Homo sapiens: one gene and its partners. The protein of the gene in region 5 interacts with the protein of the main gene of each other region in a pairwise test. Each region holds a gene or a part of one and is shown on either strand. Other genes may lie near its edges. The genes, in order: SLC39A2, CPLX4, GOLT1A, PARP15, NRM, SPAG4 and GORAB.

The links.
Region 1: the proteins of NRM (region 5) and SLC39A2 interact in binary tests that used the Homo sapiens proteins (3 or more experiments, as listed by UniProt).
Region 2: the proteins of NRM (region 5) and CPLX4 interact in binary tests that used the Homo sapiens proteins (3 or more experiments, as listed by UniProt).
Region 3: the proteins of NRM (region 5) and GOLT1A interact in binary tests that used the Homo sapiens proteins (3 or more experiments, as listed by UniProt).
Region 4: the proteins of NRM (region 5) and PARP15 interact in binary tests that used the Homo sapiens proteins (3 or more experiments, as listed by UniProt).
Region 6: the proteins of NRM (region 5) and SPAG4 interact in binary tests that used the Homo sapiens proteins (3 or more experiments, as listed by UniProt).
Region 7: the proteins of NRM (region 5) and GORAB interact in binary tests that used the Homo sapiens proteins (3 or more experiments, as listed by UniProt).

Annotation. Positions count from the first base shown.
Region 1 is NC_000014.9:20,997,813-21,002,092, forward strand, and holds SLC39A2 (zinc transporter ZIP2), read left to right. Parts: upstream 1-1,480; 5' UTR 1,481-1,634; coding exon 1,635-1,749; intron 1,750-1,929; coding exon 1,930-2,060; intron 2,061-2,303; coding exon 2,304-2,354; intron 2,355-3,134; coding exon 3,135-3,767; 3' UTR 3,768-4,059; downstream 4,060-4,280. UniProt on the Homo sapiens protein: Transporter for the divalent cation Zn(2+). Mediates the influx of Zn(2+) into cells from extracellular space. The Zn(2+) uniporter activity is independent of H(+)-driving force, but is modulated by extracellular pH and membrane potential.
Region 2 is NC_000018.10:59,294,902-59,298,275, reverse strand, and holds the end of CPLX4 (complexin-4), read left to right. Parts: intron 1-1,350; coding exon 1,351-1,578; 3' UTR 1,579-2,874; downstream 2,875-3,374.
Region 3 is NC_000001.11:204,203,989-204,207,488, reverse strand, and holds part of GOLT1A (vesicle transport protein GOT1A), read left to right. Parts: intron 1-3,500. UniProt on the Homo sapiens protein: May be involved in fusion of ER-derived transport vesicles with the Golgi complex.
Region 4 is NC_000003.12:122,608,650-122,612,149, forward strand, and holds part of PARP15 (protein mono-ADP-ribosyltransferase PARP15), read left to right. Parts: intron 1-1,844; coding exon 1,845-2,081; intron 2,082-3,500. UniProt on the Homo sapiens protein: Mono-ADP-ribosyltransferase that mediates mono-ADP-ribosylation of target proteins. Acts as a negative regulator of transcription.
Region 5 is NC_000006.12:30,688,185-30,692,187, forward strand, and holds the start of NRM (nurim), read right to left. Parts: upstream 2,801-4,003; 5' UTR 2,791-2,800; coding exon 2,658-2,790; intron 2,647-2,657; exon of another isoform or gene 2,160-2,646; intron 2,060-2,159; coding exon 1,863-2,059; coding exon of another isoform or gene 1,841-1,862; intron 1,287-1,840; coding exon of another isoform or gene 1,269-1,286; coding exon 1,092-1,268; intron 759-1,091; coding exon 477-758; 3' UTR 1-476.
Region 6 is NC_000020.11:35,618,829-35,621,594, reverse strand, and holds the end of SPAG4 (sperm-associated antigen 4 protein), read right to left. Parts: intron 2,673-2,766; coding exon 2,597-2,672; intron 2,401-2,596; coding exon 2,285-2,400; intron 2,017-2,284; coding exon 1,849-2,016; intron 912-1,848; coding exon 822-911; intron 720-821; coding exon 573-719; 3' UTR 501-572; downstream 1-500. UniProt on the Homo sapiens protein: Involved in spermatogenesis. Required for sperm head formation but not required to establish and maintain general polarity of the sperm head. Required for anchoring and organization of the manchette.
Region 7 is NC_000001.11:170,530,690-170,534,965, reverse strand, and holds the start of GORAB (RAB6-interacting golgin), read right to left. Parts: upstream 2,801-4,276; 5' UTR 2,743-2,800; coding exon 2,682-2,742; intron 2,519-2,681; exon of another isoform or gene 2,357-2,518; intron 1,503-2,356; exon of another isoform or gene 1,315-1,502; intron 1-1,314.

The DNA of each region.
Region 1 (4,280 bases), on a different chromosome or scaffold from region 5:
TGCTAAGAAAATAGAAGAACAGGAAGAAAAGTTGCCAGGTTCAGACATCCCAGGGAAAAAGAAGCGTAAACAGCATTAGCAATCAGTGACTGATGATAATGCTGCAATAATGGGAATGGTTTTATTTCTAAATCAAATCGTTTATTGCTTTGTTTCTAAAAAACAAAAAAAAAACTTCTACCTGCAGACCCCTAGTTTAGATTAATTAGGAAACATTCCCGCAGGTAGTCATAGAGCTTGAATTGTATATAAAAGCTAAAGAAAAGCTTGTAACTTTGAGTTGGTCTGGTGTGCTACTCCGACCTCCCTGTAATCAGTTGCAGAAATAAACTCCCGTCTTTCCCAGTCTGTCTGTCTGCATCTCATTACCGGACCACAAGAACAAGCAGCAGGACCAGTAACACTGTAAGAATCATCCAGTAACACTGTAAGAATACTGCTTCTACCAGAGGCCAGGACTTCCCTAGGAAAATAATCTGGAGTAGCAAGGAAAGCTGCCTCCAGAGCTCTGAGAACTGGCTCAACAGGTCTCAGGGTTGTTATGTGGGCCACCTGAATAGGGGAATCAGCAGCTGCCTGGCCTCTTGTACTAACGCCTTCCCTTCTGTCTTTCCCAGGGTCCCTCAGCTACCCTAGAGTATGTATGGGAAATGCCCCAGACATTTCCATCAAGAGTGATTCCCATCAGAACTGAATCTTCTACCCCCACCTCTCTATATCCAGGTAGAATCCTCCCATTCACTCAGTTCATTTCTGTTTTCCCCTAAGCCTTGCTGTTTCAGGGCTAGAGCAGCTTCCTTTGTCTTAAACCTTAAATGTCTTTTTTTCCACAGTTCTTACCAGGAAACAGGCACAGTTAGAAGTTGTAACAGTATAAATGTTGTAATACCAGACATCTCAACTCATTCCTCTCAAAACTGATCCCAATCAAAAGAGAAAGAAAAAAAACAAATCAACTTACCACTAGACATTTCCATGCCTGGAGCTATTTTTCTGGGGTTACAGGAAAGGGTAGTTCCCTCATGTGGGTACTAGTTCCCACAGAGTAGCACCAGCACCACCTCTCAGCCCCACCTCTTTACCTCCAGGTGGCCCCAAATCTCTGAAAGCGGGTGGTTCAAGTATCAGCATTGCAACCTATAAGACTTGGGATGAGGTGGAGAGGGTATGGAAGGCTTAGATCAAACGTCCTGAGTGAGACAGGACCAGATTGTCCCCAGTACAAAATAGCTGGGAAGCAGCTACCATAGACTTTCCTATTTTGGATTAGACCAACCCCAAGCACATGAACTAAGACTATCCGTAGCTCTTGGATTAGTCATGCCATTGAAGAGGAGGAGAAGACGCCACTGGGCTGTGCCTGGCAGGGAGTCTGGAGTTTCTGGTTTCCAAGCTCAGGAAGGCGTGAACCAGGGGAGGGGCCTCCATGCAGGGGGAGGGCTAGAAGCTGGGGCAGGATCTGTCAGCTCTGCAATGCTGCAGAAGCAGAAGCAACACAGAAAGAAGATACCAACAGCCTCCTGAAACTCACGAGAGTGGACACTCCAGTGTTGACCACCTAAGATACCACTCCTGCTCCAAAGATTACAGCTCCCTTGTCATTCTGACTCCTGGGCTTACCCTACACCCCAGAGATGGAGCAACTACTAGGAATAAAACTTGGCTGCCTGTTTGCCCTGTTGGCTCTCACTCTGGGCTGTGGCCTTACTCCCATCTGCTTCAAATGGTTCCAGATTGATGCAGCCAGAGGTATAGCCCTACCCCATCTTTGTTCCATAGCCTGAGTCTCACCTCAACCCTGTCCTGATACCTTGCTCTGATTCTCTCACCATCCCCAACCTTGGGATATTGAGTGCTGCCTGCTGCTCTTTACTCACCTTTGTCTGTCTCCTCAGTGTCAAGTGGGTTGTAACTTCTGCTTTTTATTAGGTCATCACCGGCTAGTCCTCAGACTCCTGGGCTGTATTTCTGCTGGTGTTTTCCTGGGAGCAGGGTTCATGCATATGACTGCTGAAGCCCTGGAGGAAATTGAATCACAGATTCAGAAGTTCATGGTGCAGGTGAGAGCAGAGATTTCAAGCCGCAGGTCTATGAGGCCAAAATGATAAACAGGACAAAGGGAAGAGAGCGGGAAAGTGATGGAGCCAAGGACATGGGTGGAACGACAAGGAAAATGACAGCTCTTGTGTGGGATGGTGAAAGCAAGTCAGATTAGGCTTTAAGGAAAACAGAATTGCTGAAGGGACAGCACAGGAAGCTGTGCTGCTCCATCCCACATCTAATTTCTGCTGCTTTCTTCTTAGAACAGATCAGCAAGTGAGAGAAATTCTTCTGGTGATGCTGATTCAGCTCATGTAAGTACCTCCCACCATCCCCTATCTGGAGAGTGAGGAGAACCAGAGAGGCCTTTCATATCCAGACCCTTTTGAGAGGAATACATGAGGAGTACCAAGAATCCCTTCTGCTCCCTAGCTCAGACATCGTAGAGGAAAAGAGGAGCAAATCCAATCCTTTTGAGTTTATAGAATGCCAGGGAAAGCCCTTGTTTTACTCTTTCATTCTTTCCCTGGATCCTCTGATATACCTCACATCATTTGCCCATGTTTTTAACTCTATTGAGATTCTGTCCCTTAGCCCCTCTGGCAGTCTTTTGTTGTTGTTGTTTTTCGTTTGTTTGTTGAGATGAAATCTCTCTGTCGCCCAGACTGGAGTACAGTGGCACAATCTCGGCTCACTGCAACCTCTGCCTTCCGAGTTCTAGTGATTTTCCTGCCTCAGCCTCCTGAGTAGCTGGGATTACAGGCACGTGCCACCACACCTGGCTAGTTTTTGTATTTTTAGTAGAGACGGGGTTTCATCATGTTGGCCAGGCTGGTCTCAATCTCCTGACCTCAAGTGATCTGCCCACTTCAGTCTCCCAAAGTGCTAGGATTACAGGCATGAGCCACTGTGTCCGGCCCACTCTGGCATTCTTGTTGTTGCATGGCCATGTCTACTCTTGGCTTCATTTCCCCTACCCTTTTTTGTGTTCTGTTACCACATTTTCTCATTCTCTTCAATCTCCCAATTCCATGTCCATCCAATGTATTGCCTACCCTTCCTTTCCATCTCACAGCCCTTCTTTTTGTTTCTAGATGGAGTATCCCTATGGAGAGCTCATCATCTCCCTGGGCTTCTTTTTTGTCTTCTTTTTGGAGTCGCTGGCATTGCAGTGCTGTCCTGGGGCTGCTGGAGGATCGACAGTGCAGGACGAAGAATGGGGTGGGGCTCATATCTTCGAACTCCACAGCCATGGACATTTACCCTCACCCTCAAAGGGTCCCCTCCGAGCCCTTGTCCTCTTGCTGTCACTCTCCTTTCACTCAGTGTTTGAAGGGCTAGCTGTGGGGCTGCAGCCGACAGTAGCAGCTACCGTGCAGCTCTGCCTTGCTGTCCTGGCTCATAAGGGGCTTGTGGTGTTTGGTGTAGGAATGCGGCTAGTGCATTTAGGTACCAGCTCACGATGGGCAGTGTTCTCCATACTATTATTAGCTCTCATGTCCCCCCTGGGCCTAGCCGTAGGGCTGGCTGTGACTGGAGGGGACTCTGAAGGAGGGCGGGGCTTAGCCCAGGCTGTGTTAGAGGGTGTGGCAGCTGGTACCTTCCTGTATGTCACCTTCCTAGAAATTCTTCCACGGGAGCTAGCTAGTCCTGAGGCCCCTCTAGCTAAGTGGAGCTGTGTAGCCGCTGGTTTTGCCTTCATGGCCTTTATTGCCTTGTGGGCCTGAGAGATTCCTGGCTTTTCTGATGGACCTATTTAGGACAACCTCTCTATCCCCAGGGAGACCTCCCAAATGGCTTTGACCCTCAGACATTTCTTTACTCAGACTAAATAGCATTCAGTAGGACTGGACTGGACCCCAGGTTTCCTTTACATGAGATCCCATTTCTCACCCTGGACTAAGACAAAGATATTTAGGTTGAGCAGCTATTAATTGGAGAATTGGTACAGAGACGCTCCAGATTTTATTCTTATCCCATTTATGCTACTGTGTGTAATAAAATGCCCATTTTACCCTCCTTCAGCCATTCTGGATTTCATTTCTCCTGGTTGCCTAGATGCTACCTGGCACAGGAAGTGGTGGAATGGGGAATGGGAAGGATGAGTGTTGAATGCAGTATTTTATTCTGGAATTAGGGCTCCTAGCCATCCTGTCAGTTGCAGCCACACCCCTAGACATGGCACCTTGCTAAAATTCCCCTCCCACCTTACCCACTGTAGTTGAGAAAATGAGCCAGTT
Region 2 (3,374 bases), on a different chromosome or scaffold from region 5:
CCTAAGTGGTAAAAGAATCTCAGCTGAGTATGGGGGTGCATACCTGTAGTCCCAGCTACTTGGAAGGCTGAGGTGGAAGGATTGCTTGAGCCCAGGAGGCCAAGGCTGCAATGAGCCCAGATTGCACCACTGCACTCCAGCCTCGGTGAAAGAGAGAGACCCTGTCTAAAAAAAAAAAAAAATAAAGGAATCTCAAAGACCAGGCAGCATGCATTAAGAAATTCTAGAACAGACACTCCTAAAATCACAAAATGAAATGTGCAAGGCGCTTGTGACAGCGTCAGCAACACCGAAGGCTAGACTGCCAGTATGCTGAGTGGCGGCCATGCCCTTGATGGTTCACTTAATACATGTGTACTGTGTGCTAGACTCCAGTCCAGGTGCTAACGGTGGAAAGTTGAATCTGACAAGAGCCCATGACGGGCTCCCTGTCTAGTGGAAGGGAGGAAAAGAGCCATGATTAAGAAAAAGTTGCCACTAAGGTGTGATGAGTGAATTAATGCATACTGTCTAGTTACTATAAACTGAGACCTCATCCTCTACAGTGGGGTCAACCAGGTGAGTGGGTCTTGGCATGGGGCTGATAGAATCTGCAAGACTTGCAAAGCTGCCCTTAGGCAGAGTTGGGGTGTGATGCCCCAGCTTTTGTGTGTATCAGCATCACAGAGAGAAAGACATTCTTAAAAATCCAGATGGGGTTGGGAGTGGTGGCTCACACCTGTAATTTCAGCACTTTGGGAGGCCGGGGTGGTTGGATCGCCTGAGGTCAGGAGTTCGAGACCAGCCTGGCCAACATGGTGAAACCCCGTCTCTACTAAAAATACAAAAAAATCAGCTGAGTGTGGTGGTGCACACCTGTAATCCCAGCTACTGAGATTTACTGAGGCAGGAGAATTGCTTGAACCAAGGAGGCAGAGGTTGCAGTGAGCTGAGATCGAGATACTGCACTTCAGCCTGGGCAACAGAGCAAGACTCCCTCTCAAAAAAAAAAAAAAAATTCCAGATGGCTGGGCTCCATCTCCAGAGTTCCTGATTCAGTGGGTCTGGGATGGGGCCCAAGAATTTGTAGTTCCAGCAGGCTCTAGATGATGCTAATGCTGCTTGTCCAGAGACCACACTTGGAGAACCACCATGCTGGAAGGTTCTGATCGACGCAAGGTGCCATGAAGAAAGGACCCCCCTACAGAAGCCCCCACAACTGCCATCAGGACCAGGCTCTGCTGCAAGGCCAAGAGTGCCACTCACTTCCTGTATTCTCTAAAGACCTTTTCCTGCTGCTTTTAAAATTTATTTAGTTAGTGAGTTAGTAGTTTAGAGTTATTTATCTATCTCTATTTATTTTTCACATAGAGTGAAATGGATGAGAATCAAATCCAGATGGCTGGAGATGATGTGGATTTACCTGAAGATCTCCGGAAAATGGTAGATGAAGATCAAGAAGAGGAAGAAGATAAAGATTCTATTCTTGGGCAGATACAGAATCTCCAGAACATGGACTTGGATACCATAAAAGAAAAAGCCCAGGCCACCTTCACTGAAATCAAGCAGACAGCGGAGCAGAAGTGTTCCGTGATGTGAGGGGTGGGAGGGGTGGAGGGAGGGAACCAGCCATCCTTGGAAAAGACCACTCTCTTGTGGGACGTTTCAAGCAGTACATGTTTTAATGTAGTGAACACAGTTAGGAAAACCACGATGATCCATTGACAGACAATAATTTGGTTGTTCTAAATATTCCTGGCAGAGCATTTAGCTAACACCTTGCAGCGGGAACCTTACTTTCCTTTTAGTTATAAATGAGATAAACTGGAAAATTTCAGTTGTAAATGATGATGCAGAACACATATCTGCTTAAAGACCTTGAGATGAGCCAGGAAGAAACAAAAGCAAGGGGCATTTCCTCTCCAACTTTCTTCCTTGGAGGCCAAGTTCTCACCCTGTCCAACTATTCGCAGGACACCAGGTCCCTTCAGAGAGAAATGTGGAGAGTCAAGGTGTCTACTGGGAGCCGGGTTTCCCACAGGGAGCTGAGTCTACAGACTCCAGGGCAATCAAAGGTCACCACCCCCACCCCTCACCTCTAGGATCCTTGAATTTGTCAATGATACTCATCAAGTATGCTTGGATCCTTTGGTCCTTGGATGCTTCTCAGCCAAGTGGCGGTAGCACAGATGTGGTGAACAATGACGAATTGAGGCAGGGAATAGACCTCACTAGCCCTTTGCAATGGAGATCATCGTTCTAGTGGCCATGTGAAGAATGGAACCAAGGGAGGCACAATTAGAGGCAGAGGGAAACCAGGCAGACGGCTGCTCTTTTTGAGTTGAGCTTAACTCTCCTTGTCTGAACTTGGTGATAGCAATGGGAACAAAGTGGGTAGACTAACAGAGAGCATTAAGAAGTTAAATCAATCTCTCTCTGTCTCCTCCCAACCTCTCTCTCTCTTTCATCCCCTTCTCTCCCTATCTCTCTTTTTTTTTTCTTCTCCTGTCCCTTCCCATCCCACCCCTTTAGACTACCTTCCAGTAAATCACACTGTCATTTGGTGCCACAAGCTTTCAGGGTAGACACTGATTTTTCCCCCCTAATATCTGCTCTCTTTCAAAAGGAATAATTCAAAAGACTTAGGACAATTACCACTGAAACACTTCGAGCTATTTAGCTAAAGCCCACCAAACCAAAACAAAATACTGATTTTTTTTTTTTTTTTTGGTGACTCTGTTCATACAGTGAATAAAGATCTATCAAAGGAAAAGGAAACTGAGACCGAAAACTTAGGGTCTAAGTTGTTCTAAACCCAGGGTTCTCAAATGTGTTGTACAAAAAGTTTCATGTAATAAAATTAAGCAAATAAAACAAATGAATAGAGGTCCAAAACCTATGGTCCTTGGCAAAGTTTAATCTGTCTTGGAAATTCCTGGGAGAACATTGGTGCAATGATTGAGGCTGATTAGCCTTCTAGTCCACAAACCCAGATGCCATGGGCACATTTTAAAACTGTGCTTGTCTTTTATCAGAAATGGCATGTGAGTTGTGATTTGTTTTATAGCAGAAACTTTAAAAAACTCACTTTTTTAAAAACTACAATATAATAGATAACATTTATTTTCAGTTTAATGCCTGACTCTGCCCTGTAGTTGGTGAGGTGGGTAGTATGGATGGGTGAGAGGTGCTGTATGTGGCCTGATATCTGTACACTTTGTATGACATAAAATACTACAGCTGCCAAATTGTTCCACACTCTAGCCTCAGGATGACAAAGAAGATGTGCTTTCTTGTAAAAGATGCAGCCAGTTCTGCTAAGGAAATCACTAAATTGGCACTTCCTCTTGACTGCCAACATTACTCCAATGCAATTTGGTCGTTGTCTCAATGAA
Region 3 (3,500 bases), on a different chromosome or scaffold from region 5:
CTCTTCTTGGCAGCAACTCGGGAGTTGCAGAGCAAGGAGCTAAACAAGGGCACCAGTGCAGCCATCAGTGTACCTTGCCAGGGAGATCTAAAGCTGGTCTCTGAGGTCTGGGGAGGTCTCCACTTCTAGGTGGCGCCTGGAGAGCCGGGCCTCCCTGAAGTTACCTTGGCCTCCCAGCTTTTTTCGGCTGGGTGTAGGCGTGACAGCCCTGGCCGCCTCCAGCAGAGGGCGCGCTGCCCAATCTGTCTGGATCACGGGGACCGTGCCGGGCAGGCACACCTGTCACTCCTGGGGGCATCTGTATGACATCCCCACCCCTCCACTCTTTCTGCCATGGTTGCTGCCTGAAAAGAACTTTAGGAGTAACCTCTGGCTGGATAACTTGACTAAAATAGCTAAGCTACTCCAGAAGCAAGAGGCAAAGGCGGGTCTGAAGCTTGTGTGTGAGAAACAGAGTTTCTGACCCTTTTCTGTGGGGTTTCGTGTCCCACTGAGCACTGAGAGCACTAAGTGTGGCCCATAAAGAAGGCTGCCCCCATCACAGGAGAGTCCTGGAATTGCATCTGCCCTTAAAGAAGAGTGTAGAACAGGTGGAGGAGGGATAACTATGGCAGCCAGCAAATCACTGCTGCAGAAGAAGAAGGAATAAACAGGAGAATGGACATCATGTGTGAATGTGAGAAACTTACGCTGTTTCCACAAAATGAGTATGAGGCTGTTCTTAAGTGTGTGCAGGATGAACATATAGAAAGTTCAACAAAACGAAATGAAAACCCCGTAAAATGTGCACATCGTGTTTCCACACAAATACACCTACTGAGGGGGAGGAAAGGGTGTATAGTCAGAGCTGAAATCAATGACAGATGTTTTTATGGCAGGCATAAGCCAACAACAGATATTTTATAACAAGCATAAAAACCTAAAACACTTTTATCATTTGGGTTAAAGAAAGATGACTGTGGTCTTCCTCCACAATATTCTGACCTACACGAAATTATCTTGGTAATTCAGGTAGATGTAACTCTAGATTCTCAATGTGTTGTCTCTGAGGATGGAAATGTTGACAAAACACAACCTTCATCATGACCCATGGGGGTGATATTCTGCTGAGCTGTCCCAGCTTCTAAGAGATTTAATTCAGGCCAGCAGGAGGAGGTAGAAGTAGGAAACAAGCCCAAATAGATCACGAGGCTTGTCAGGAACACAAGGAATCAGCTTTTAGTAGAAAATGGATTCTGGGCAGCTGGGTGATATGTTGAGAGAAATTATGTTACACTGGGTCCCAACAAAATCCAGCTTCTGCCAAAAGTGAGATCCAGTAAGACTGGCATGATACCAGACTATGAGTTGAGCAAGGTTTCAGTCTATAATTTGAATGCTAGATCTTATCACTGTATTTTTCTGTTTTCTTTTTTTTTGAGATGGAGTTTTGCTCTTGTTACCCAGGCTGGAGTGCAGTGGCATAATCTCGGCTCACTGCAACCTCCACCTCCCGGGTTCAAGCAATTCTCCTGCCTCAGCCTCCCACGTAGCTGGGACTAGAGACGCATGCCACCATGTCCAGCTAATTTTTGTATTTTTAGTAGAGACGGGGTTTCACCATGTTGGCCAGGCTGGCCTTGAACTCCTGACTTCAAGTGATCCACCCACATCAGCCTCCCAAAGTGCTGGGATTACAGGTGTGAGCCATTGAGCACCTGGCTTCATTGCTGTATTTTTGATGATTCTTTTAAAGAAGCTCTTTGACCTTTTTTCTGTATTGGAATTGATCCTAATCCTCTTAAAATCTGCATAGCAACAGATGATGGATTAACTACCCAGAAGATGATTATGTTGTTTCATTTTCTTTCAGTTGTAAATAAAACTCAGCCAGTAAATCTAGTCTTGATAATTTTGTTTTTGTTTTTACAATTCTGCCTCTAAACACCAGAATAATTTTTCCCCTCACTTTTAACAACTATCTGCAAAAGCATAATAATAATACCAATTTCATAGAGGTTATGAGAACTGATTCTAACAAGTCCAGTAAAATTTTTGACGAGGGCATCAAGACCATGAAATGGGGAAAGAACAGTCTTTCCAACAGATAGTGCTGGGAAAACTGGATATCCACATGCAAAAGATGCAGGTGGATCCTTACCTTATACTATCTGCAAAAAGTAACTCAAAGCAGATCAAAGCCCTAAAAATAAGAGCTAAAACTATAAAACTCTTAGAATAAAAAATAGGGGAAAGCATTACAGCACTGGATTTGATAATGATTTCTAGGTTATGACATGAAAAGCACAGACAACAAAAGAAAAAAAAGACATCAATCAGACTACATCAAAATTTAAAACTTCACCGCATCAAAGGACACAGTCAACAGACTGAAAGGTAACCTACAGAGTGGGAGGAAATATTTGCAAATCATACGCTACATAGTTAATATCCAAAATATATAAAGAACTCCTACAACTCAACAACAAAAAGAACAACCTGTTTAAAAAATAGGCAAAGGACTTAACTAGACAATTCTCCAAAGAAGATATACACATAGCTAACAAGCACATGAAAAGATCATTAATCATTAATCATTAGGGAAATGTAAGTCAAAACCACAATGTATACTACCTTATACCCATTAGCATGGCTGCTATCAAAACAAAACAAAACAGATAAAGTATTGGCAAGATGTGGAGAAATTAGAACTCTTGTGTACTGTTGCTGGGAATGTTAAATGGTGCAGTCACAATGGAAAACAAAATGGCAATTCCTCAAAGAATTAAAAATAGAATTACCATGTGATCCAGTATAATTCCGTTAATTCCACTTTGTGGGGTATATACCTGAAAGGATCGGAAGCAGTGTCTTGAAGAGATATTTTCTTATGCTCATATTTATGGTAACACTATTTACAATAGGTAAGAGATGGATGGAAGCCACCCAGATGTCCATCAACAGATGAATGGATCAACAAAATGCAGGGTACAGATAGCAATGGACTATTATTCTGTTTTAAAAAGGAAGAAAATTCAGACACATGCTACAACATGAAGGAACCTTGAGAACGTTATGATAAGTGAAATAAGACAGTCACAAAAAGACAAATATTGTATGATTCCACTTATAGGAGGTTCCCAGAGTAGTCAAAAATTCATAGAGAAAGTAAAATGGTGGTTGTTGGAGGCTGGTGGGAGGGGAATGGGGAGCTACTGTTTAATGGGTGTAGAGTTTCAGCTTTGCAAGACGAAGAATTCAGGAGATGCGCTTAATACCACTGAACTGTACATTTTTAAATGGTTAGATGGTAAGTCTCATTTTATGTGCACGTTGCCACAATTTAAAACTTAAAAAGGTAACAATTTAAAAACAAAGCAACAGAATGAATTTTTATTTATTGACTATCATAGTGGCAAAGATAAGTAAAATGAACAATTCTGAGTGCTGGAGAGGGTTAAGGAAAAAAGGAACTATATATCCGGTTATTGTACAAATCGTCTTGAGGGGAGCGATCTGAA
Region 4 (3,500 bases), on a different chromosome or scaffold from region 5:
TCACTATTCCAATCTAAATGATTTCCTATCTTTTTTGAAATCTATACCAACTAATATTTGTATATTTAACAATGTCTTTTGATTATTTTGAATTGATTTAAACATTACAACAAGGTTACTTTTTTTTTTTTTTTTTGAGATAGCGTCTTGCCTTGTCACCTAGGCTGGAGTGCAGTGGCGCAGTCACGGTTCACTGCAGTCTCAACCTCCTAGGCTCAAGCAATCCTCCCACCTCAGCTTTCCAAGTAGCTGGGAATACAGGCCACTAGCTAATTTTTTTTTAATTGTAGAGACAAAGTCTCACTGTGTTGCTCAGGCTGGTCTTGAACTCCTGGGTTCAAGTGATCTTCCTGCCTCATCCTCCCAAAATGCTGGATTACAGGAGTAAACCACTACACCCAGCCTATTTTTTTACATGTTAATATATTGCTTCCCTAAACTGTGTAGGAATCAGTAAATGGAGAGTGAAACTGCAAGTGGGAGTGAGGAGAACATGGGCTAGATCTAATTTTGTTTTGTTTTGTTTTGTTTTGTTTCTTGGATGGCTTGCTCACTCTTGTCTCTGCAAGGGGCTTCTCAGATATTGAGATTAGTTTATGCTAACTTCATATAATACCTCATATGCTAACTAACATTATATAAGTGGATCCAAGAATGCCGATTATTAGGTTGAGAAATATAACCTATTATATGTCCCAGAGACATAGACATCTTTTAATTTACAATGAAGAAGAGTTCCCCAAAGAACCAGGACATTAAAAATCCACATGATCAGGCTGGGCTCATGCCAGTAATCCCAACACTTTGGGGGGCCAAGGTGGGCAGGTCACTTGAGATCAGGAGTTCAAGACCAGCCTGGCCAACATGGCAAAACCCCATCTCTACTAATAATACAAATATTAGCCAGGCATGGTGGCACATGCCTGTAATCCCCGCTACTCAGGAGGCTGAGGCATGAGAATTGCTTGAACCTGGGAGGCAGAGGGTGCAGTGAGCCGAGATCATGCCACTGCACTCCAGCCCTGGGAACAGATCGAAATCGTGTTTAAAAAAAAAAAAATTAAAAAAAAAAAAGGCCACACGATGAGAGTGTTTGTCTCCTCTTACTCCCAACTTACCAGGGAATCAGAAGGTTTCTGGTGAGCACAAAATCTGAGTAATAGGAGTTATGAGTTGAATATGTAACATCTCATGGCATTAGGCTATGACCCTCACTTCACCAAAGGAACAGCCTTAGCATTGACACTGGAGAACTCAACATCCCTGGACAGGCTAGAATGGATACTGCCTACCCTCACCTTAGTGACTTTCCTTTGCCAAGGCCTTCAGGGCCGACCATACCCTCCTTCACATTGACCTAGTCTTTCTTTTGGTATATTGTTAAATTCAAAACAAGTATTCTCAGTTCCTGCCAGGCTGAGAGCAATTCTTTCTCCCTTCCCCTGTCTCTCTGTCTCAATCTTTCTGTGTTTTTGTTTCTGTCTGTCTCTGTCTCTGTTTTTCACTTTCATTTTTCTTCTTTCTCCATTTCTCTCTCTCAGTCTTCGTCTCTGACTCTCTGCCTCTGGTCTCTGACTCATTTTCATAGCTCTACTCTGACTCATTACGTGTTGATTTCACAGCAGTGGTTAATATATTTCCTTAATGTCTAAGTTTTGGAAGTAACCTCATCATGGTGTTTCAGTGCTAACAATAGACTGTAAGCTCCTTGAGGGTGGGGCTGACATGTTAGTATGACAGGCAAAACATATCTGTACATTACCCCACAATACTTAGTAAATTTACAGTTGCTCCATCATTATGTATTATTGATTCAATCTCTAACTGTTGCTATTTTCGTTAAGGCCGATGTCATTGTCAACAGCGTTCCCATGAATCTTCAGCTTGGAGGAGGACCACTATCTCGGGCATTTTTGCAGAAAGCTGGTCCCATGCTCCAGAAAGAGTTAGATGACAGAAGGCGGGAAACAGAGGAAAAAGTAGGTAACATATTCATGACAAGCGGCTGCAATCTGGACTGCAAAGCTGTGCTCCATGCTGTGGCTCCATACTGGAATAATGGAGCAGAGACTTCTTGGCAGGTAGGGAACGCTCTTAGTTCTCCAACGTATTGGGTGGCTTTGGGAATCTCCTTCTGGTGTGGTATAGATCTGTGCTCAAGGGAAGCAATTTTGCCCCACAGAGGACAGTTGGGTTGTTACAACTGCTGCTGGTATCTAGTGGGTAGAAGCGAGGGATGCTGGTAAATATTCTATGATGCACACACCAGCCCCCACAACAAAGAAGTGTCTGCCCTAGGCTGTGAAACCCTCGTATTGATTGAACCCTGTCTATCTATTGAAATCTTTATTACATTCCATGGAGAATTCATCACAACTACCAGTTATTTCCAAGTAATTGACCCTTGGAGGTAGTAACATTCATTGGGATTCTACAGGAGTGGTGTCTAAGTTGTAATGTAATAATCTTTCAGTACAGCAAAGAGGTGCGCCCAGCACTGTGGTGAAGAAGAAAAAAGAGTCAGTGCCCTTCTTTCGATAACATCATTCCCACCTCCACTACCAGTTTAATTTCCCAACTTTTTTTCAGAATATAAAAAAGTAATACAAATACATTGTGGAAAATATAGAAAAGTACAAAAAGACAATAAAAATAATAATCCAACCACCAAGAGATAACTGTTTTCTTCTTCTTCTTTTTGAGACCGAGTTTCGCTCTGTTGCCCAGGCTGGAGTGCAGTGGGGCGCCATCTCAGCTCATTGCAACCTCCTCTCTGCCTCCCGGGTTCAAGTGATTCTCCTGCCTCAGCCTCCTGAATAGCTGGGATTACAGGTGCCCACCACGGGGCCTGGCTAATTTTTGTATTTTTAGTAGAGACGGGGTTTCACCATGTTAGCCAGGCTGGTCTCAAACTCCTGACCTCAAGTGATCCACCCGCCTCAGCCTCCCAAAGTGCTGGGATTACAGGCATGAGCTACTGTGCCTGGCCTTAAGAGGTAACTTTAGTTAACATTTTACTATATTTCCTTCAAGTCAACTTTATGACTTTATGCATATTTATTTATTTATTTATTTATTTTTTGAGATGGAGTTTTGCTCTTGTTGCCCAGGCTGGAGTGCAATGGCACAATCTTGGCTCACCGCAGCCTCCGCCTCCCGGGTTCAAGCAATTCTCCTGCCTCAGCCTCCCGAGTAGCTAGGATTATAGGCATGTGCCACTACACCTGGCTAATTTTGTATTTTTAGTAGAGATGGGATTTCTCCATGTTGGTCAGGCTGGTCTTGAACTCCCGACTTCAGGTGATCTGCCTGCTTCATCCTCCCAAAGTGCTGGGATTACAGGTGTGAGCCACCACAACTGGACAGCATATTTATGTCTTAGTTGAGATTCTCTTTCTCTCTCTTCTTTTTTTTTCTTTTAATTGAAACAGGGTCCCACTCTATTGCCCAGGCTGGAGTGCAGTGGCGCGATCTTACCTCACTGCAACCTCCACCTCCTG
Region 5 (4,003 bases):
GGTGCAGAGACTAGGGCCGGGAGTGGTGAGGCAAGGTTGGGGCCTGGAGGGACAGCTATGACCGTTGAACTTGCAGACCCTGGTCCACCTTCTTGGAGTGGAAGCCAGCGGTGCAGAAGGGGACCCCTGAGGCGCAGAGGCAAGTAACAGTGCCAGGGGAGTGGTCAGGGCAGATCCTTTCCTTCTCAGGAGGCTGTTGAGGGGGAGAGTGTCATGCTCTAAACAGTGAAGGGACAGATGACTTCCATACCCCACTCTTCCTTGCTGGTGAGAAGTGGACCTTGGAGTTCAGTGGCTGAAACTCAGAATTTAGGGTATGGAGCTGGACCCAGAGAATAAAGTCTCAAGTAGTAGAAGGGGCATCTCCTTCAGTCCATGGATTTGGGCCTCTGGCATGAAGCAGCCAGGGCCTGGATGTTAAGGATTTAGAATTCAGTGGGAGAGGAAGAACAGGGCTTGTAACCAGAGTGAGCTCCTCACTCTGCCTCCCCATCCTGGGGCCGAGAGAGCAGGTGGAGTTTTCTTTGTAGCTGGGCCCGGAGGTAGCGGAGGTCTTGCTGATCAAGCCCGTGAGCCAGGCCCAGGTAGAGGGTAAGGAGGAAAGCAAGGAGGAGACGGTCCGTGCCCAGGGTAGGCACCACCCACAGCACTGTCAGCAGCTCCACACACACTGGGTGGCGCAGGTGGGAGAAGAGTCTGAGAGCCCGGGGAGACTTCAGGGCCAGAGGCTCGCCCAGCCCCAGCACATGGTAGTATACCTAAGAGAGGGAGAAGAGCTTAGAAATGGAGTCAAGCCCTTTTCTCATCTTGGGCACTTCTTTCCTCCTCTTCCAGGCACCACCCTTCTAGAACTCAGGCCCAGGAACCCCCCTTCTGAGACTTGGATCCCTGATCCTGACTTCTGATCCATGTACCTTCCCCAGGCCCAGGAGGCCCATGCTTGCTGCCCTTACGAGGGAAAGTCAAAGGGAAGGGCCACGAGGGAGAAGCAGGGAGACAGTAGAAGAGCATGGGAGGAGGGAAACCCTTGAAAGGGAACGAGGAGTTCTAAAATGGGTCAGAGGTCATAGGTAGGGATCTCGGAGCCTCACCTGTTTGAGGCCCATGAGCTCAGCATAGTCAAAGACGAGAAGGATGCTAAAGATGAGGAGCCAGGAGATGACATGGAGCACAAAGCAGAGGAGCGGCACCCAGGTGGCCCATGGCTCAGCCCGAGCCTCCCACAACACAGGGCCTTTGGGTATGGGCTCCCAGTACCGCATCACCAGCTGTGGAAGGATAAGGGGCTGGGTATCCCAGTGGCCTAGTCTGCCCGACCTTGGGAGACCCAGACCCAGATCTGCCCCCACCACAGGCTAGCCTGCAACTCTCCCCCACCTCTCTCCTAAGCATCACCACCAAATATTCACCATGTGGAGGGTGCGTGCTGGGTGAGGTCCCAAAGATGTAAGGATGGCCTGTCTCTACCCTGAGAACTTATAGAATAGATGGGGTGACCTGATAGCTACGCAAAGTAGTAGCCTGTGCCAACCACCCAGTGAAAAGACAGACAAGGCCTTCTCTTCAGACCTAGGGAAGTGGTTTTGAAGAAAGGGTAGGACTGAAGAGAAGGGATCTCAAGCAGGACATAAACAAAGTTGCAGAGGTGAGAAGCATATCTTGTGCTTAGGGAAGGACAAGTACACCCTTCTTGATAAAAAGTAGGATATGTGCTGTGGAGGAATGGAAGCTGAGATTAGTTCCTCAATTCTCCTCCTGAACCCATATTTTGCCCCTCCAATCCACGGCACCCCTCCCACACTTGGTCTCCCTTGGGGACTCAACTGCCAGGATTTCATACCTGCAAGGCCAGGGCCTCATACCTGCAAGGCCAGGGCAGTGCAGGCCACATACAGTGACCTCTGAAGGACCCCAAAGTACCGGGATGTCCATGCCTTCACTCTTTCAGCTGCCATGAGGCTGTGCTGCCCAACAAATAGAAGCAGGAGCCCCAGATCCCATGCCAGGGGGGCAAGGATGCTGCGGTCCTGCAGGGCAGCCAGCCATCCCTGGCGGGCATCTACAGGAAGTTGAGGGAAAAAGAGACAAAAGATCGAAACAGTGGCAGAATGTTTCCCCCACCCTCATCTCCTCTTGGATCCCCAGGCCATGTCCCTTACTGCTTTCAAGAGCCTTAATGCTTCCTCTCTAGGCTGTGCCCATCTCACTTTTCCATCCCTAGTTTCTGCCCTCTTCCCTAGGCCTCCTGCAAACCTGGGGAAGAGGATTTATAGAACACCACATGTTAGGCAGTTGCAAAAAGCATGGCTGGAGAGGCCACGCTGGATTGCCCCTCTTACTTCGGTTCTCCAAATGCTCCTTCTTTTTAACACTCTCCTCTCAACAGTCCTCTCTACAAAACACTTTACTTAGAATACTCCGGTCACCGCCCTTTTCGGCTCCCTCAGTCCTCACTCTCCCGCCTCTCCAAAACTCTAATCCTTGAGTTCCTAATTTAGAACTCAGGTCTCCCTCCCCTGTAGCTTCTCGGCCGCTTTCAAGGTTCGAGTTCCCTCTCTTGGACTTCCCCTGTCATTTGTTTCCAAGCCCCGCCCTCAATCCCTCTCCTACGGCTCCACCTTCCTCCTCCCAGTTCATCCTCGATCCCTCCCGCTCACCCGGACCACCAGACTCCGGGATCCCTCCAAGAAGTGGCCGAAGGGAGGTAAAGCGCACGAACTCCACTCCGGTGCCAAAGGCCAGGATGAAAGAGGCGAGGGCAGCAGGGATCAGGAGCAGTGCAGGGGCCATGGCGAGAAATGGAGGGGTGGGGAAAGGGGCGGGGTCGGGATTCCCGCTGCCACAGGCCCCGCCCGCGGCCCCGCCCCCGGCTGAATCCAGCCCAGGAGGGCGGGGCTCCTGCACGCCACCGCCAGGCTTCCGGCCCGCCTGGCGCAGCCTTCCCCATCCAGCTGTGGATCCGTCCTGGGATGCGTGTCCCGGCCTGCTGTCTCTCCGTCACAGAAGGGAATGTTAGAATCCCGAGAGAGAGCTGTTAAGGGTAGCGGCTCTGCAGCCGCTCACGTGGGTTGAATCTCAGCTCGTCTAGTTTTCCCATCTAAAATGAAAAGTTACTGTTTTACCACAAAATAAATTAATGTATGGAATACATTGTACAGAATACAATATACAGAATAAATTCTGTAACTTACTATAAAGTTGAGTTGTTGACTGGCCAGTTGCTAAGAATGGCAAATAACTTCTCTGTAAATACTGAAAGGTTTGTTGTAATAGTGCCAGAGATTGTTGATTAGTAACCACGAGAATAAACATGTTAAAATATTTGTGATAGTAACCTTTGTCAGAATTAAAGATCATGCAGCTAAGGACCTTGTCACAGTAGACGTACACATAGTAGGGACCTTAGATATCATTAGACTAATTCCATCAACTTATAGATAGAAGAAACAGGTCCAGAGAGATAATTGCCTGAGTTAGGAAGCTGCTAATCCTGTAGGCTAAGGGACCAGATAATTGCTGAGCAGCCTCTCGCAGGCTTTACATTCCTTCTCCGTCTCCTGGGCTCAGTACTCCCACCCTCCTCTGAATCAATGCTGTTGTATGCTGTACCAGACATCTTATGTTTTCCCTTGAATTCAGTCTCCACCCTGCTTTCTGCTTCAGTAAGTTGTCCCAAATGGACGGTATCAATGAAAGTCACAGTTTTTATTGAGAAAGTCCTCTCGCCGGGCGCGGTGGCTCACGCCTGTAATCCCAGCAGTTTGGGAGGCCGAGGCGGGTGGATCACGAGGTCAGGAGATCGAGACCACGGTGAAACCCCGTCTCTACTAAAAATACAAAAAAAATTAGCCGGGCGCGGTGGCGGGCGCTTGTAGTCACAGCTGCTCAGGAGGCTGAGGCAGAAGAATGGCGTGAACCCGGGAGGCAGAGCTTGCAGTGAGCCGAGATCGCGCCACTGCACTCCAGCCTGGGCGACAGAGCAAGACTCCATCTCAAAAAAAAA
Region 6 (2,766 bases), on a different chromosome or scaffold from region 5:
TAAGACAACCTATGTAGGGGCTACCAGGCCTGCATCAGCTCTGTGACTCAGAAGCTTCCTAGAGGTTATCAAGTCTCCTTAGCTTTTGAGTGTGTGCCTGCAGAAGGTGGGTAGCTACCCCTCCACCGGTACCTAGCAGGAGTTGGGGACTTTCCCACTGGGGCTGGGAATTGAGCACAAAGGTGGGTTCAGGCTGCCTGCAGCTCTGCAGTTAGAGGACTGGCTCTGGAGGAAGGTGGGCCTGGGTACTGCTCTGTCACTGCCTTTCACTAGCTGTGTGACATTGAACAAGTTTCCTGACCTGAGCAGCTTCCCTTTCTGGTTGTGAGAATGAAGTTAGGTAATGTGTGTAATGTCCACAGCACTGTTTCTTGTACGTGGTAGGCACTCCATAAACAGGAGCTGCTATTACGATCTTGATCAAGACTTCTCCAAGAAAAGAGGGTGCATTGGGAAGTCAGCCCCTCCATACTTAGATGCAACGGCAGCCAGAGCTCTCCCAACAGAGCCCCCGAAAGCACTGATCCAGTATCCTTCAGCAGAACTCAATTCTACTCCAAAAATCAGCATGTTTAATGGGGCCCCTGTGCACTGCCCTCTGCCCCCTCTGAGGTTCGCACACCGTGGGCACGGACTCGATACAAGCACGTGAAACGGGGGTGGCCCCAGTTGCTTAGAATCTGGATCTTCACCTTGGGAAAGGCAGCTGGGGGGTCATTCTGGGGAGACAAATGGATCATGCCAAGGGCTGCCCTCCTCCTGGATCATTCATCCCTCACTGCCCCACTCCCTTGGCACCTTCACCCTAGAGACAAACACACCTGCAGGTGGAAAGTCTGAATCTCCGATTTCTCAACATCGAAGGTGAATTTCCCCAAGGAAACTTCAGTTTCATCATAAACCTGGAGGCCCTGGTGGGTGAAGAATGAAAGGAGGAACTATGAGGGGGACAGGTGGGGCGGGGGGGGCGGGGAGAAGAAAACTTTGCTGAGGATCTTCTGTGTATTCAATAGCTATATGCATGTTCTCATGTATTTTTTGATGGTCGTACACTGTAATTCAGAATGTGGGCTCTAAGAAACCAGGTTTTATTTATTTATTTATTTTGAGACGGAGTGTTGCTCTGTCACCCAGGCTGGAGTGCAGTGGTGAGATCTTGGCTCACTGCAAGCTCCACCTCCCGGGAAGAAACCAGGTTTTAAATTTAATCCTGCCAACTGTTAGTTGTATTACCTTGGAAAAATAACTTCCCCTCTCTGAGCATTACTTTCTTCATCTTTAAAGGGGGAGATAACAGTACATCATAGGTTGTTATGTGGGTGCAAAGCAGGCACGGTGGCTCATGCCTGTAATCCTAGCATTTCAGAAGGCCGAGGAAGGCGGATCACTTGAGGTCAGGAGTTTGAGACCATCCTGGCCAACATGGTGAAACCCCATCTCTACTAAAAATACAAAAATTAGCCGAGCATGGTGGCGCACGCCTGTAATTCCAGCTACTCGGGAGGATGAGGCACAAGAATCGCTTGAATCCTAGAGGCTGAGGTTGCAGGTGAGCTGAGATGGCACCACTGCACTCCAGCAGCCTGGGTGACAAGAGCGAGACTGTCTCAAAAACAACAGCAAAATAAGAATGCCTGTAAACTGCTTGGCACGGAGTAAGTGCTTTGCAAGCAATAACTAATATCTGGATATGGTTATGACTATAACCTACAGCAGCTCTGAGAGGCAAATAGTAGTATCTTCATTTTATAGATGAGCAAGCGAAGACTCAGATAACGGCACCAGTTCTCAAGACTGCTTGGGCTCTCTAGGCAAAATCCCCCACCTCCTGACCTCGTCCGCACTCACAAAGACCGCGAAATCGCGGGGGGCGCTGTTGGCTCCTCCGGTGTGCTCCACGCTGGGCGGTGGATGCTGCAGAGTGATGTCGCTCAGCTGCACTCGGCCCGGCAGTTGGATCACCACCTGGCCTTGGTCGCCTTCAAAAGCCCAGCAATTCCCAGGGAACACGTGGGGCTGCAGGCGGGCGGAGGGACCATCGGAACCGTCGGACAGAGCGACTGCTGCCGCTCCCCAGCCCGGGCCTCAGCTCGACCCCATCCATCGACCCGCCCAGAGCTCCACCTCCAGCCCGCCCCAGTCCCCAGCAATGCCAGGTCTCTCCTTGAGTTAAACGCCATCCTCCACGCCCTCGGCTCAGCCAAGCTCCGCCTGTAGGGCGGGGTTTTGGTGCTTTTCCCAGCGTCCCGCCCGGGGTCCCATCCCGGGATGTTTCCAGACTCACCTCCAGGATAACCGTGGGCGGCCGTGCGTAGTTCCAGAAGCTGAAGCGATTCCAGAAGTAGGCAGTGTTCCTGTCTGCGTAATCGTGGGATGTCTTCTGCAGGTCGATGGAGGCTCCTGGAACAGTGAGAAGTAACCCTCAGAGGCTCCCAGGCCTTGCCGGGAGTCGGGGCGCGGGGGCGCGGGGGCTGGGGGCGGGTGGGGGCTGTCCGAGGCTCTGTCTTCGGCCGGTCAGGTGCATGGGTCTGTCTGTGTCAGTGTCTTGGCCTCTTTCCTGTCTGCGTCTCTGTCTTCCAGTGTCTCCGGGTCTTACCCACAGAGCTCAAAGCATAGTCGGGCTTCCGCACAAAATCCTCATTCAGCCTCTGGAACACGAGCTTGGCCACTCTCTGCAAGGAGGGAGGGCGAGGCCTGGAGGGGCGAGGCTTGCGGGCTGCTTTTACAGGTGGACGGGACCTCTGGGAGCTGGTTGCTTTGGGATGG
Region 7 (4,276 bases), on a different chromosome or scaffold from region 5:
TATTAGGGCTATTTGTTACTTTAGCTTAACTTGTCTTAACCTGATTTCATAAATACCAATACCTCTGAAATTCCCTCTCCCTGATCACATTCCCACGCCTCCCCACTATATACAATCATACGTCACTTAACAAAGGGATACATTCTAAGAAATGTGTTGTAAGGCAATTTTGTCCTTGCGCAAACATCAGAGAGTGTATTTACACAAACCTAGATGGTACAGCCTACTATATACTTAGGCTATATGGTACAGCCTTTTGCTCCTAAGCTCCAAACCTGTACAGTATGTCACTATACTGAAGACTGTAGGCAACTGTAACAACGGTATTTGTGTATCTAAACATAGAAAAAGCATAGTAAAAACAGGGTATTATAATATTACCAGACCATCACCATATATGTGGTCCGCTGCTAACTGAAATACTGTTATTGAGTGCGTGACTGTATATATTATATATACAGCTAGCTGATCCTTGGTATATGAGGATAATTGGTTCCAGGATCCCCATGTATACCAAAATCTGTGCATACTCAAGTCCCACAGTTGGCGCTGTGAAGACCACATACACCAAAAGTTGGCCCTCCATATACTCAGGTTTTGCATCCCCCAAATACTGTATTTTTTAAATGCACATTTGTGTATAAGTGAACCATCACAGTTCAAACTTGTGTTGTTCAAGGGCCAAGTGTAACTACATATACTGTATTAACAAACATTTTAATGCATGTGGCTACAGTTAATACTAATATATTCCCACCAGCTGTACAGTAGCCCGCTAGATGAGTATACCACAATTTATTTATCCATTCCCTTGTTAATGGACACTTTGGTTGTTTCCAACTTCTTAATATTATAAACAAGACTATTAACAACTTTCTTGACTATGTTCCTCAATGCCCATACAGGGGTCTCCAGAGTACTACTGTCCTTATTTTTCCTGGCAACCAACTCCATCTTCCTAAATTATTCAATAAATTTTTAAAGATAGAGAACAGCTAGAAATGGCTTTAAAATTAAAGGGCCAAATCCTCTAATTTTACAAATAAGGAATCCAAGGAGAAAAGATTTAGAGGAAGAGCTGGAAGTTCTATATGCCAATCACTGTGTTTAGCTACGGGTATACAAGGAGGTTAAGATATTTTCCGTCCTCGAGGTGGTCACGGACTAGCGATTTGGTTTCCACACTACAGTGGGCCTTGAAGTTCAGGTCCTCACCATCCTCTATCTACCCCCGGTTGCAAAGATATTTCAAAATATACTTCTACATAATGAATATGTTGTTTAATTTAGATTTTTATATTAAGTCATCTTTACCCTGGAAAATGCGCCTCTGCTAACACACAAACTTTGTGAAATCTTCCCAAGCTCCATCCAATCCCCGGCAGAGTGAGGTTCCTCTTGTCTCTGAAGCAAGTTCTTGCAATATCTACTATCACATAACTTTGTGGTTTGTCTCCTCATGAGTCTACTGGAGTCAGACCAGAGGCCAGGGCACTTGTACCCTGTATATCAAAGTATGTGAATGGATGTTGAAAACACAAAGCAAAAGAATTTGAGTATATCAAGCAACACAGAGTCAGTTAACTACATAGCTTAGCCTAACCTTTATGATAGAGTTTTTAAAGTCCCCTGGACCAGTCAAAATGTCCCCAGTCGATATAATCTACATTGGCCCTATCTTACTAATTTACTTCTTTTCCCACTTGTCTGCCCTAGATTATTCTCATATTTATGCTAAAAATGCACAAGCTACCAGAGCAACATCCAATTTCCCCACAAACGCTAACAAAAGGTTTACTTCATTTGCTACCAAAATAAAGTATTTGAATTAAGGTACCAAGAGTGATGTACACTTCTTACAGAAATTGTGTGTACTACCACGATAACCATACAGATCACTGCGAAATTTCAACCACAAGCAAAGTGCAATTAATATTACTAAGTTTTCCACCAACAATCAGCAAACTTAATTCCTTCCACAACAACAAAAAAATTGTACAAGCCCATTCAATGATTACTCTATAAAGCCAGAGAGAGAAGCACAAGGTTAGCTTACTCCAAAGTCAGTAAGACTGTATGTATATAAACATATAAAGTCTTCACATCTACCCTCTCAAAGACCCTTTTGGTTTGCTGATTCTCAAAAATTGGGAAGTACTGCAAAAATCATCTGGCAACCAGAAGTGAATGCAACACTCCAGATGAATTGTGAAAAGTACCGAATTTTTGCCTTTATTCAGACGCCTGTGCTCCTTTTTTCCAACCATCTGCTTCTATAAATTCATCACAATTCTAATACGGTGTGCGCCCCTCCTCCTTCCCTTACCCTGACCCTAACCTTCCAACCGTTGATTCCTGCAGCAATCTTCCCTAAGGGAGACACCCCGGCTGTAGGCTCACTTCCTCTCCCAAGTCCCATTCCTTTCACAAGAGTCAAATCCCTACAGTGGATTCCTGGACCGTTTTTTCTAAAAGAAGATCCCAGTCCTCTGGCTTGCCCCTCCCGTCGTGACTCCCAGTAAGTCCTCCTCTGAAACCCCCTAATCCAGTCCACGTACTTACAGCGCCTTCCGCTAACACAAACGTAGCCGCTTCCACGCCCCCTTTCCCCGCCAAAGCTGCATCCCCGCCTCTTCCCCTTAAGACCCAAGAATTAAACCACTGTAAACCCATCTTGTAACCTTTAGTCTGCTTTAGTCTCCTCAGTTCCTCCTCAGAGAATCCTGCCCAACCTTGCGCCATCGGCCCGGGCCACCGGCACCCCCAAAAGTGCCCAAATCTCGCAGCCGCGACTGCCAACACTGCTGCCCAGCTCATCCGGGTTTTTCCCCGGCCGCGGCCAATCAGTGCATCGGGCTCCAAACACAAGGCCCTCTCTCCCCGGCCTCAGGGTCCGGCTTCCTTCCAGGCTGCCTTCAGCAGTGCCTGACAAACTGCCTAAGGAAACCTTGCCACGCAGACATTCGTTTCCTCTGGCTTACCTCTACTCTCTCTCTCTCTCATTGTTTCTCACTGTTGCTGGTTAATCGCTTCAGGAGCTAAGGGGGGAAATGGCGATGGGGATAAGGGTGGAGATAAACAGGTATTTGGGAAGGAGCAACAAGTCGGTGGCGGAAACGGGAGATCTAAGTGCCTTTGGGGTCCTGTACCTGTGGGGCGGGAGCGGTGCTCTCTGTGGCTCTTAGTGTGCCCTAAAATCCTTGTGTTTTGCTGGGAGTGTGCACAGCGCTGGAGGCCTCCTTCAGATTAACTCAGGAAATGATCAGATTTAGGATTTTGATGATGAAGAAACATTTAAAAGGGGTGGGGTATAATTGATGAAAAGGGAACAGGCATAACCAGGTCTCTCGCAGGCCGGAGCGGCTCTCAGATTTCTTTTGCTTTGGGTTGTTTCCTTTGTGAATAATTATAATATGTAACTTTCCTCTTAAGGGATTTCTTTTTCTTTTTTTCTTACTTTTTTTTTTTTTTTTTTTTGAGACATAGTTTCGCTCTTGTTGCACAAGCTGGAGTGCAATAGCACGATCTCGGCTCACTGCAACCTCCGCCTCCCGGGTTCAAGCGATTCTCCCGCCTCAGCCTCCCGAGTAGCTGGGATTACAGGCGCCGGCCACCACACCCGGCTAATTTTCTGTATTTTTAGTAGACACGGGGTTTCACCATGTTAGCCAGGCTGGTCTCGAACTCCTGACCTTAGGGTATCCGCCCGCCTCGGGCTTCCAAAGTGTTGGGATTACAAGCGTGAGCCACTGCGCCCGGCCGGGATTTCTTAGTCTCCCCTTTAAATCTGTTTTTCAGAGAAGACATTGTAAAACGTCGGTGCTGGGGGATGGGAAAGCATTTCTTAGGATCCTGCCTGGAATCCTAATACCGTAATTCGGGTTCTGCCTTGAACACTAACCTGAGATCCCATTTCCTCATTTGAAATATGGTTGCAAAGATTAAAAGATGCAAGCGTTGTCAAAATACACATAGATAAGGATGATTCAAGAGAGACCTAGTTATACTATTTTTCATGGTTCTCTTTCACTATTTTTGCAGTAAGAACAACAAAACACCTCATCTTGGCTTACATTTTAAAATACTTTGGCTTTAGTGTGTTGATATTTTTAAACAAAATGAAAGAAAGGAGTAAAGTACAAAATAAAACACGTCAAGAAAAGTTGAAATGAGTACTTCAGATTTAGTAAGTGATAAAAAGTGAAGGATGTTTGGAATTTCCCATGTAAATCCGAGCTTTTAAAACTTAAAGTGGTTTCTGAAATTTGGGGATGCT